2 separate regions of the Homo sapiens genome follow, and region 1 is linked to region 2. The links come from fine-mapping of genetic effects on plasma protein levels. Region 2 holds a variant in brackets. A gene starts in the other region. All regions are shown on their reverse strands.

Region 1 (4,376 bases), not on the chromosome of region 2:
GCCCACACGGCTCCCTCCAAGCCAGTCCATCTGAGAGTGATCACAGCACCTGGGTAGGGGACTGGCATGGGCCCTCAGACCACAACACCCCACTCACCGTGGACCCGGTTGACACTGTGTCCCCAGCTACAACTGCCAGAACCAGCAGGAACCAGGCCCAGCAGGAACATTGCCATCTGCCATCCATCCTAGGAAGCAAGGCCACTGTCACCACCAGGCCAGCTCCGATCCTCTTCCAGATGACCAGGGTACGCTTTGGGAAGAGCCCTCGGGGCCCAGCCAGTGCCCAGGCCTCAAGGTTATCTGGGACTAGTTGGTCGTGGTTGTCTGGCAGACCCTGTTGGGAAGGATGAACCCCCCGCCTCAGTCTAGGCTTAGCAAGAAGGAGCTTGGTGAATGATTAGTAATGCCTGCTTCAGGCAAGACACCCAGCGGCGGTGTGCGTGCTAAGCCTGTGCCACCCTTGATCCAAGGGCATGCAGGGAAGCATGCCATGCTTTGCCTCCAAGTCCTCAAGCCCCCTAGAGAAGGGCTGTGGAGACAGCCAGCCTCGGCTGAGGGGGCTGGGGACCCAGGCGGGGGGAAAGGCTCTGGTTCGAAGGGATGGGCCTGGGCTCAGTCCAGCGCCTTGGCAGGAGCACCTTGGGATTTTAACTGGCTCAGCTCTTGCTGGCCTCGCAGGAGAATGGCCTCTGCCACTGGCTGCTAGGGTCAGTGCATGGGGATGGGCTTGGCCAGGTCCCGGGGGAATGTGCAGCCTCGCCCTAGACCAGCAGCTCCACAGTCAGCATCCAGCAACAGCCGGCACTCAGGTGAGGCAGAACCCAGGTACCTATGCCGCCTCCCGATCCCCGGAGAGAAGATGGAATTGGGGGAGGGGCAGGGCAGGAGGAGGTGCAGTTTGTGCCAGCATGTCAGCAGTCCAGGGCCACAAGGCTGACTTCCTCCCAACAGCCAGCACCCTTGGCTCAAAACACCTGCCAGGGGTCAAAGCAAGCCCATTGGAAGGGACTGTCCAGCCTCCAGGCCCTCAGCTCTCCCCACCCCCTCCTCAGCGTCGACCCTGCCCTGTGGAAGGGAAGACCAGAGATCCACCATGACCTCTGTCCAGGCCTTGCTCAGGTGCTGAGGGTCACTTGCCAGCGAGTTAGAGAAGGGATTTCAGAAACCACGCAGCCTGCACTCATAACCTGGAGCCCAGAGAGGGGAGCCAACCTGCTCAAAGCCACACAGCAAGGTAGCACACTAGCAAACTCAGGGACTCGACCCCCACGCCTGGCCAATTCCAGGGGAAGAAGGCATGGAGGTCACCCCTCACCCCTGCCAGGCCAGAGGCCAACTCGGGCTCTGCCCCTCCCTCCTCAGCAGCCTCCATCCAACTTGAAGAGTTTCCTTGCAGGCCCGGCACCTGCAGATTTTCAGGGGCCACTCCAAGGACACCACTGCAGCCCGGACGACGCAGCAGTGCACCCTGGAGTGGGGAGCCTGAGTCTGACCTCCCCTGCCCCCGCCGCCTGCCCCCCACCTCCCTCCCCTGCAGACCTCCATCTGCACTCTCAGCCTCACACCCACAGGAGCCCCCTCCACTGTGCCATTGGCTAACGGGTGCCCCAGCCTCTGCCTGCCGGCTGAAGACAGGTGCCAGCCGGCCTCACACTTGCTTTTTTCATTAAGGCTTCCAGACACCACTGGCTTCTGGCCAGGCCTCGCTCACGGGGATCCATCCCTCCCTGGGGTCCAAAAGCAGCGGCTGGCGGCAGCAGAGAGGTCTGCCGTGCACACAGAGCTCCGGGCGCACAAGGCTAGGTGCTGGGAGGCCACCCTGCCCCGTGCTCTGCGGCCCGACCCCTCCCCACAAGCCTCCCCACGTTATGTAACGGCTCCAGAGGGCGCGGGGTGCTCCTACCCCCAGCCCCACTCTGAGCAGTGGGCTGGCCTGGTGGACGCTGCAACGTGAGGGGGACGGGGACGAGGTGGCCTACCTGGCTTCGGGTCAGCAGGTTGTCCTCCCAGAGAAAGGGGCGAGCGCTGCGGAGGGCAGACGGCGCCAGGTGCGCTGTGCGTGCGGGGGCGGCGTGAGTGCAGAGGCTGCGGCCCGGCCTCCCTCTCCCCTTCCCCTCCTCCCCCGCGCCGCCTCCCTCTCCCACTTCAAAGAGCATCCAAGAGAGGGGGTTCCCGGGAGGGGCGCAGCCCAGTGGCGGCTCTGCGCCGGCGGCCGCCTTTATAGCTGTCAGGCAGACGGGGAGGAACACTCACACTTCCCACCAGGCCGCTCCCCCGCCCGCGCCGGCCGGCCTGGCGCACACTTTAACCCGCTCTGCGCCTCTGGAGCCCGGCCAGGCCGGCCCAGCTGCCTGTTGGCTGCTGCCGGCGGCGGCGGCCCAGGAGCGGCGAGCAGGGAGGCCTTCTTCCCGGGTCCAGAACTGGGGGCCACATGTCGGGTGTCCAGACGGAGCAGCCGCTGGCCTGAGGTTACCGGGGAGGCTGGCGGTGGCAAAGCCCCAGCCCCGCCTGTCCGGCTTCTGCCTCCAGAGCGGGCCCTGTCCCTGGGGCTCCTGAGAATGGGGTCTGGGATGTATGAGGTGTCCCGTCTGATGGCTCCGTTGTACGGAGGGAAAGGCTGAACTTCCGGGACGACCGTGCCCCAGGTCACGAGCCTCAGAAAGCTCCCGAGATGCAGGGGCCTAAGCAGGTGGAGGGACGCAGGGAGACCCAGCGAGAATGAACCAAGGGCTCCAGGGAGGAGACAGATGTGCCCGTGGCCTGCTGACCAGATGGCTAGAGCAGCCAGGGCCAGGGCAGAGAGGCTCAGGGATTCTGCAGATGTCCAGCACCAACTTGGCAGCCCCTGGCAGGCCAGGCCTGGAGCTCAAGCCTCTGTTCCTGCTGAGTCAGGGCACAGAGGGGAGCGAGAGTGGGTGGAGCAGCAGAGCCCCCCTGGGAAACTCCCGGCGGGCCCCAGACTTTGTGAGGCTTTCCTAAAGCAAGGCTGGGCACCTAGCCTCTGCACACCAGCTTCCCCAGAGCCCATCCTCGGCAAACAGAGGCACCTCCAAAAAGGGGAGGAGGAGGAAGCTGGGGCACCATTCCATCAGGTCATCTGTGTCTTTTCATCCATGCCCCTGCCTCCATGCAGCAGATGTCCTGGGCCCACAGCAGTGCCGGGAAGACACTTCTCCTTCCCTCTGTCCTCCCTGCTGGAAGAAACTTGTGAGTTCCTTCAGCTGCCTTCATGAGAAAGTTCTGCCCTGTGTCTGACCACCCACCAGAAAGGCTGGGAAGGAAAGCCACCAGTAATAGTAGTGAAAGCGATAATACCGTCTGCCCTCTGTCCAGCTTGTCCTACGGGCCCAGAGCTGTGAGGCCAGATCCACCTTTATGATCTGCATTTCACAGGTGGAAGAACTGAGGTTCGGGGACCAAGTCACCTCTCCAGTAGGCAAGGCTGGGATGCCAGCGCTCCTGAGTGTCGGGTTCTCTCCTCTGCCGGGTTGTTTAAGTTTCTCTCCCCGGGACCCTCGGGCAGGCAAGTCTTATTCATCTCATTCTCCTGCTGGGGCAACTGGGATGCAAGGTGGCTGCTCCTAGTCACAGGGCCACCTGCGGTGTGGAACCAGGACTAACCCTAACCCTAACCCAGGCCCACACTGCCCCCTGGGGTCGCTGTGCTGAATCACAGACATGGTGGCACCTGTCACCCAGCACACACACACACACACACACACACACACACACAGGCACACACACACCCAGTCCCTCTCACATGACCGGATTACACTCGCTCTGGGTGCCTCTGCCATCCCCTTCCTCTCTCTTCTGGTGACCGCCAGGCCTCGCACCCCTTGGCACAGTCCCCGAGCTCTCCTGGCGTTTGTGGCCTCACATCCAGCCAGCGCCAGGGTGACTAACGGTTTCCCTTGGGAGGGACCCCACAGCCGACCAACACAAACACCCCCAGTGTCTTCTCTTGGCTCAGCAGGACGGCACAGGCTGCAGGCTGGCCACCTGGGAGACGGGTCTGTGGGGCCAGCCATCCCCTGGCTCTGTGACCTCCTGCAGGTGTGTGACCCTCCAGGCCCCAGCTCCCCTGGCCAGCCACACTTCCACACCACCCCCACCCCTTACCCCAGAGCCTGCAGACTTGAGGCCCACAGGGAGCCATGACTGGCACGTAGCAGGTGCTCTGGTAGCTCCTGATGCCAGGGGCTCCTTACCCCTTAGAGAGTGCTGTTGAGGTGAGTCCCCCACTCTCCAGGATCCCTCTTCGGCCTGCAAATTCCCGGCCTCTCAGGGCCTTCCCCATGTAGGATGGTCTCAGCCCACACCTACCGGCACTTGTAGGGGTGTTGCAGCCGTATGGCCCTGGTGCTGGAGAC
Region 2 (4,374 bases):
CTGGTGACCATGGCTGGGCCCCACGGCAGGGGCAATCACAATTCCCACTTTCCTGATGAGCCCACCTCAGGACGGACGTAGGGTCCGCTTATGTGTGGTCACACATTTCACATGTCATCGGGGCTGGATGTGAAACCAAGGAGGGTCCTCTGCTGCTGGGCCCAGTGTTTGGGACCACAAGGCAAAGCTACCTTAAATGACAAAACCAATCTTTGACTGACACATCACTCTCCTGGGTCCTTTTCCAAAGCAGGTGGCCCACGTGTCTCAGCCCTGGGGTGCTACTGGAGAAATGAACAACTGTAACTGTGGGGGCAGCCAGTGCAGGCCCCTCCATGCCGGGCATGAACTTTGCCAGGGGTTACTTCCTGCAGCATGAGGAGGTCCAAGGTGAAGCGGAAGAGGTTGGGCTTCCTAGGGAGACTTGGGGGGCTTGGGGTAGTAGCCTCTGCCATTGCCAGGAGGGAAGTGTTTCAGGGTTTCATTGATACTGAGCTATATGTCATCCCTGTCCATCCCCTGCCTTAGAGGTGAGGAGACTGAGGGTCTGAGATGGACAAGGCTAGTCCGAGGTCACCCAGCCTCTTCCTTTGGCTGTTCAACCCCACATCCTGGAACTGTTTTGGGGCCTTGTAGCTCCACAAAGGGAGACCCCCACAGCTTGTTAAGGGCTCTGCATGTGACCAAAGGCCGTGGGATGCTGGGCTGGGGGATGGGGAGGTGGAGGCACAGGAGCACCTGTAGTCAAAGTCCCCGTCCTTGCCATCTAGGAAGCGCTGGTGCATGCGGCTGGTGAACTCCTCTCGCAGGATCAGCCTCTCCTCCGAGTCGGGAACCCAGGCCTCCGAGTCCTTGCCTGACCTCTGGTCTGCAGAGGGAGAGGAGAGGGGGTGTGAATGCGGGTGCACTCGGGCAGGCACTGAGCACAGAGTCCACAGAGAGCTGCTGCTCCTGTGCCCAGCCTTGCGCTGGGTGGCTCTGGGAACACACTAGTGACAGAGATGGCCCTGGTCCCTGCCCTCCAGGGACACGCATAAAACACATGACCATATAGTGCTCTGGAGACTGTATCCTCGGGTCAGGATCTGAGACCTGAAGGGTGGGAGGAGAGGCATTCCTGGCGGAGGGAACAGCCTGTCCAGACCTGGAGGCGAGGGTTCATTTGGTGCCTCAGAGTGGGGGATGGGGATGCTGCAGCGGTTGGAAGGGCATACACAGAGAGTCAGGCTGGGCAGGGGAGGGACGCAATGTCGGCTTTTGCAGGTTGGGGGCCCAGCCTGCTGCCATGAAGTGGAGACAGACAGGCCTAGGGCTGGGGTGTCTGGAATCTGGGGTCTTCCTGCTACTGGCCCTCACCTTCCTCGTCACTGTCCTCCTCCTCTTCCTCTTCCTCCAAGCAGGCCTCCTCCTCCTCCTGCTGTTGGAGCAGACGCTGCTGTAGCTCCCGCTCCTCGTAGGACTGGAGCAGCAAGTTGGAGAGCGGGCAAGCAGGTCTCCCGGGGGACCCGGGCTTGGGGGGCTGGTGGGTTGGGGTGCGGGCACTGAGCTCCTCCTGGGTGAGATACTGCCCGATGTACTGCTCATATAGCAGGGGGGCCCGGAACCGCATCTGCTCATCACTGAAGTACTCGCCCCCTGCACAGAGGAGAGACAGGGTGGGCATGGGGTGAGCGACTGAGCAGATAGTGTCCATGTGGGTATGTGTGTGATCATGCTTGTGGGATGATGTGCATACACAGTCCAAGTGTGTGTATGCACACATTCAAAAACACAGGAAAACATGCAGGCACCTGAGGTGCGCGTGAGTACTCATGCAGGCGCCTGAGGCGTGCGTGTGAATAATGCAGGCGCCTGAGGCATGCACGTGAATACTCATGCAGGTGCCTGAAGCTGTGTGCGCAAGCACTCATGCAGGCACCTGA[G/A]GTCATGTGCATGTGATTACTCGTGCAGGCACCTGAGTGTGTGTATGTGGCCCGGCCTCTATCTTCCTGTGTATTCATGTATTCATGCATCCAAGCATGTGTGTGCATGGGCAGACCTGGCTACATCCTGGCCTCTGAGGCTCTGACGGTCTGGAGCTCGTGTACAACTGTGTCCAGGCACGATGCACAAGCTCCTGCCCATGGACGTGTACATGGCCTATGTACACACACATGTCCTGTGAGGCCCAGCATATGCCCACAGACACCTGTCTGTCTGGGTGTCAGCATGCAGGACAATGCAGCAGAAGTTGTGTGTCTCTAGGTTGTGTGCCTGTTTGTGGGGCCCTAGTCTGGCTGGCAGTGGACACGCCTTCACTGTGGGGCGTGTATGTGTGTACATCCACGTGGATTTGGCATGTGTGTGCAAGGGATCAGGTCAGGTGGGGCATCTGCCCGTGTATCCCTGGGAAAGCCTCCTGGTGGTGGAAGGCCCTAGATCCATCCTCTCTCGAGTGCTCCTCTATGCAGCAACCCCTCAGGTGGGCCTGGCTTCCCCACTACCCCAAAACTTGAGTTCCCTGCATCACCCCTGGCTGCCTGTTTCTGCACGAGTGACTCTGTCCCTCAAATAACAGTTAAACCTGCCCTGGTCCCTCCCCTCCACTGGTCCTAGCCGTGTCTTCAGAGTCCAGGGCAAAGAAACTGCTCGGACTCCTGGCCTCTGCAGCACCATAGGCTGTGACTGTCCCTGTCCTGCTCAGCTTCCCCACTCCTGCCAGCAATCTTACCCCCAGCTGTTTGTGGCATCCTCTAGCAGACTCAGTTTTTTGAGATGGAGTCTCGCTCTGTTGCCCAGGCTGGAGTGTAGTGGTGTGATCTCGATTAACTCTAACTGCAACCTCCGCCTCCCGGGTTCAAGTGATTCTCCTGCCTCAGCCTCCTGAGTAGCTGGGATTATAGGCACCTGCCACAGTGCCTGGCTAATTTTTTTTGTATTTTTAGTAGAGCCGGGGTTTCACCATGTTGGCCAGGCTGGTCTTGAACTCCTTATCTCAAGTGATTTGCCTGCCTCGGCCTCCCAAAGTGCTGGGATTACAGGTCTGAGCCACTGTGCCCAGCCTCTAGCAGATTCAGTTTCTATCCCTCCTTCTCCCCAACTTGGATTATCACCCACCCCGGCTCTGGATCTCTCTCCATCTCTTCCTTTATCTCCATCTTTCTATCTTTCCTGCTTTTTTCAGTTTCTGTCACCTACCCCCACCTCATTCATCTTTCTTCTTTTTTTTTTTTTTTTGGCAACCTCCACCTCCCAGATTCATGTAATTCTCCTCCCTCAGCCTCCCAAGTAACTGAGATTACAGTTGCCTGCCACCACATGTGGCTAATTTTTTTGTATTTTTAGTAGAGATGGGGTTTCACCATGTTGGCCAGGCTGCTCTGGAACTCCTGACCTCAGGTCCACCCCCACCTCGCCCTCCCAAAGTGCTGGGATCACCGGCTTGAGTGACTGTGCCCGGCCCATCTTCCTTCTGTTTTCATCCTCATTTCCACATCTGTGTTTTTTTTTTTTTTTTTTGAGACAAGATCTGGCTTTATCGCCCAGGCTAGAGCTTAGTGGTGGGATCTCAGCTCACACAACTTCCACCTCCCAGGCTCAAGCAATTCTCCCACCTCAGCCTTCTGAGTAGCTAGGGCGCCACCACACCCAGCTAATTTTTGTATTTTTTGTAGAGACAGCATTTCGCCATGTTGCCCAGGCTGGTCTTGAACTCATGAGCTCAAGTAATCTACCCACCTTGACCTCCCAAAGTGCTGGGATTACAGGCATAAGCCATCATGCCCAGCCTCTCTCTCTTTCTCTGTGAACCTCTCTATAACTTGTGCCTTCTCCCTAACGGCAACTTAACTCACTCTGCTTCATTCACTCTCATCTTTTAACTTTGGTTCTGGTGTTGTGGTCACAAGGATGCTTTTAATTATGTCATGGTCAAAAAGCTATCTTTTTTTTCCTTCATGGTTTTCACCGTGTGTCTTGTTCAGAAGGCTTCTGTGTCCCCAAGGTCATGTACATACTCCTTTTGGTTTCCCCTGATGCCTCTGTATATGGTATGAGGTAGGGATCTCATGTTTTGTTCCTTAGGTATGACCAATTATCACAGCACTGTGTACTGTGTCCTCAGCCTACCAATCTGAAATGCCACTTCTAACATCTACTAAATTCTGATCTATTCTCATTGTCTGTCCCATTCTCTTCCCTGGACCCCTGTCTATCTCTCCCCCTTACTTTACATTTCTGTCTCAGTCTCTTCCTGTGTCCCTGTCTCTGTCTCAGAACTTCTCTCCCAGGATCTCTGTCTCTGCTCTTGTATTCTTTTCTCTAATTCCCTCTGCCTCAGTCTCCCCTCCCTCCCCATATGTGCCCACTGTCGCCCATCTGGCCCCCACACCTTGG

Alleles and levels. Positions count from the first base shown, and alleles are read on the strand shown. Strength reflects both the effect of a copy and how common the allele is.
For the plasma level of the protein whose gene starts at base 2,196 in region 1, A is the high allele of the variant in region 2 and G is the other (weak association).

What was found. A credible set is the group of variants that fine-mapping cannot tell apart. PIP is the chance, under the fine-mapping model, that this variant and not a neighbour inherited with it causes the effect. Protein levels are from antibody-based Olink assays in UK Biobank. Linkage for the fine-mapping came from a reference panel and not from the study's own genotypes, which makes the PIPs less certain.
Region 1: ADAMTSL2 starts here. The variant in region 2 is the best candidate, but not a certain one, in a credible set for the plasma level of the ADAMTSL2 protein (UK Biobank, PIP 0.52).

What each region holds. Positions count from the first base shown.
Region 1 is chr9:133,532,524-133,536,899 of GRCh38, reverse strand. ADAMTSL2 (ADAMTS like 2) reads right to left here and starts at 2,196. Exons shown (of 19, transcript NM_014694.4): 1 at 1,983-2,196; 2 at 98-337. The coding sequence starts at 187. RefSeq lists enhancers at 1-85, 626-1,167, 1,708-2,249, 2,250-2,789, 2,790-3,331 and a silencer at 3,590-3,679.
Region 2 is chr19:41,316,835-41,321,208 of GRCh38, reverse strand. CCDC97 (coiled-coil domain containing 97) reads right to left here. Exons shown (of 5, transcript NM_052848.3): 2 at 4,370-4,374; 3 at 1,357-1,635; 4 at 739-868. Among named protein-coding and RNA genes, the nearest start is that of CCDC97, 8.8 kb to the right of the region's middle. RefSeq lists an enhancer at 540-1,277. The variant G/A (reference allele first, on the strand shown) is at 1,923.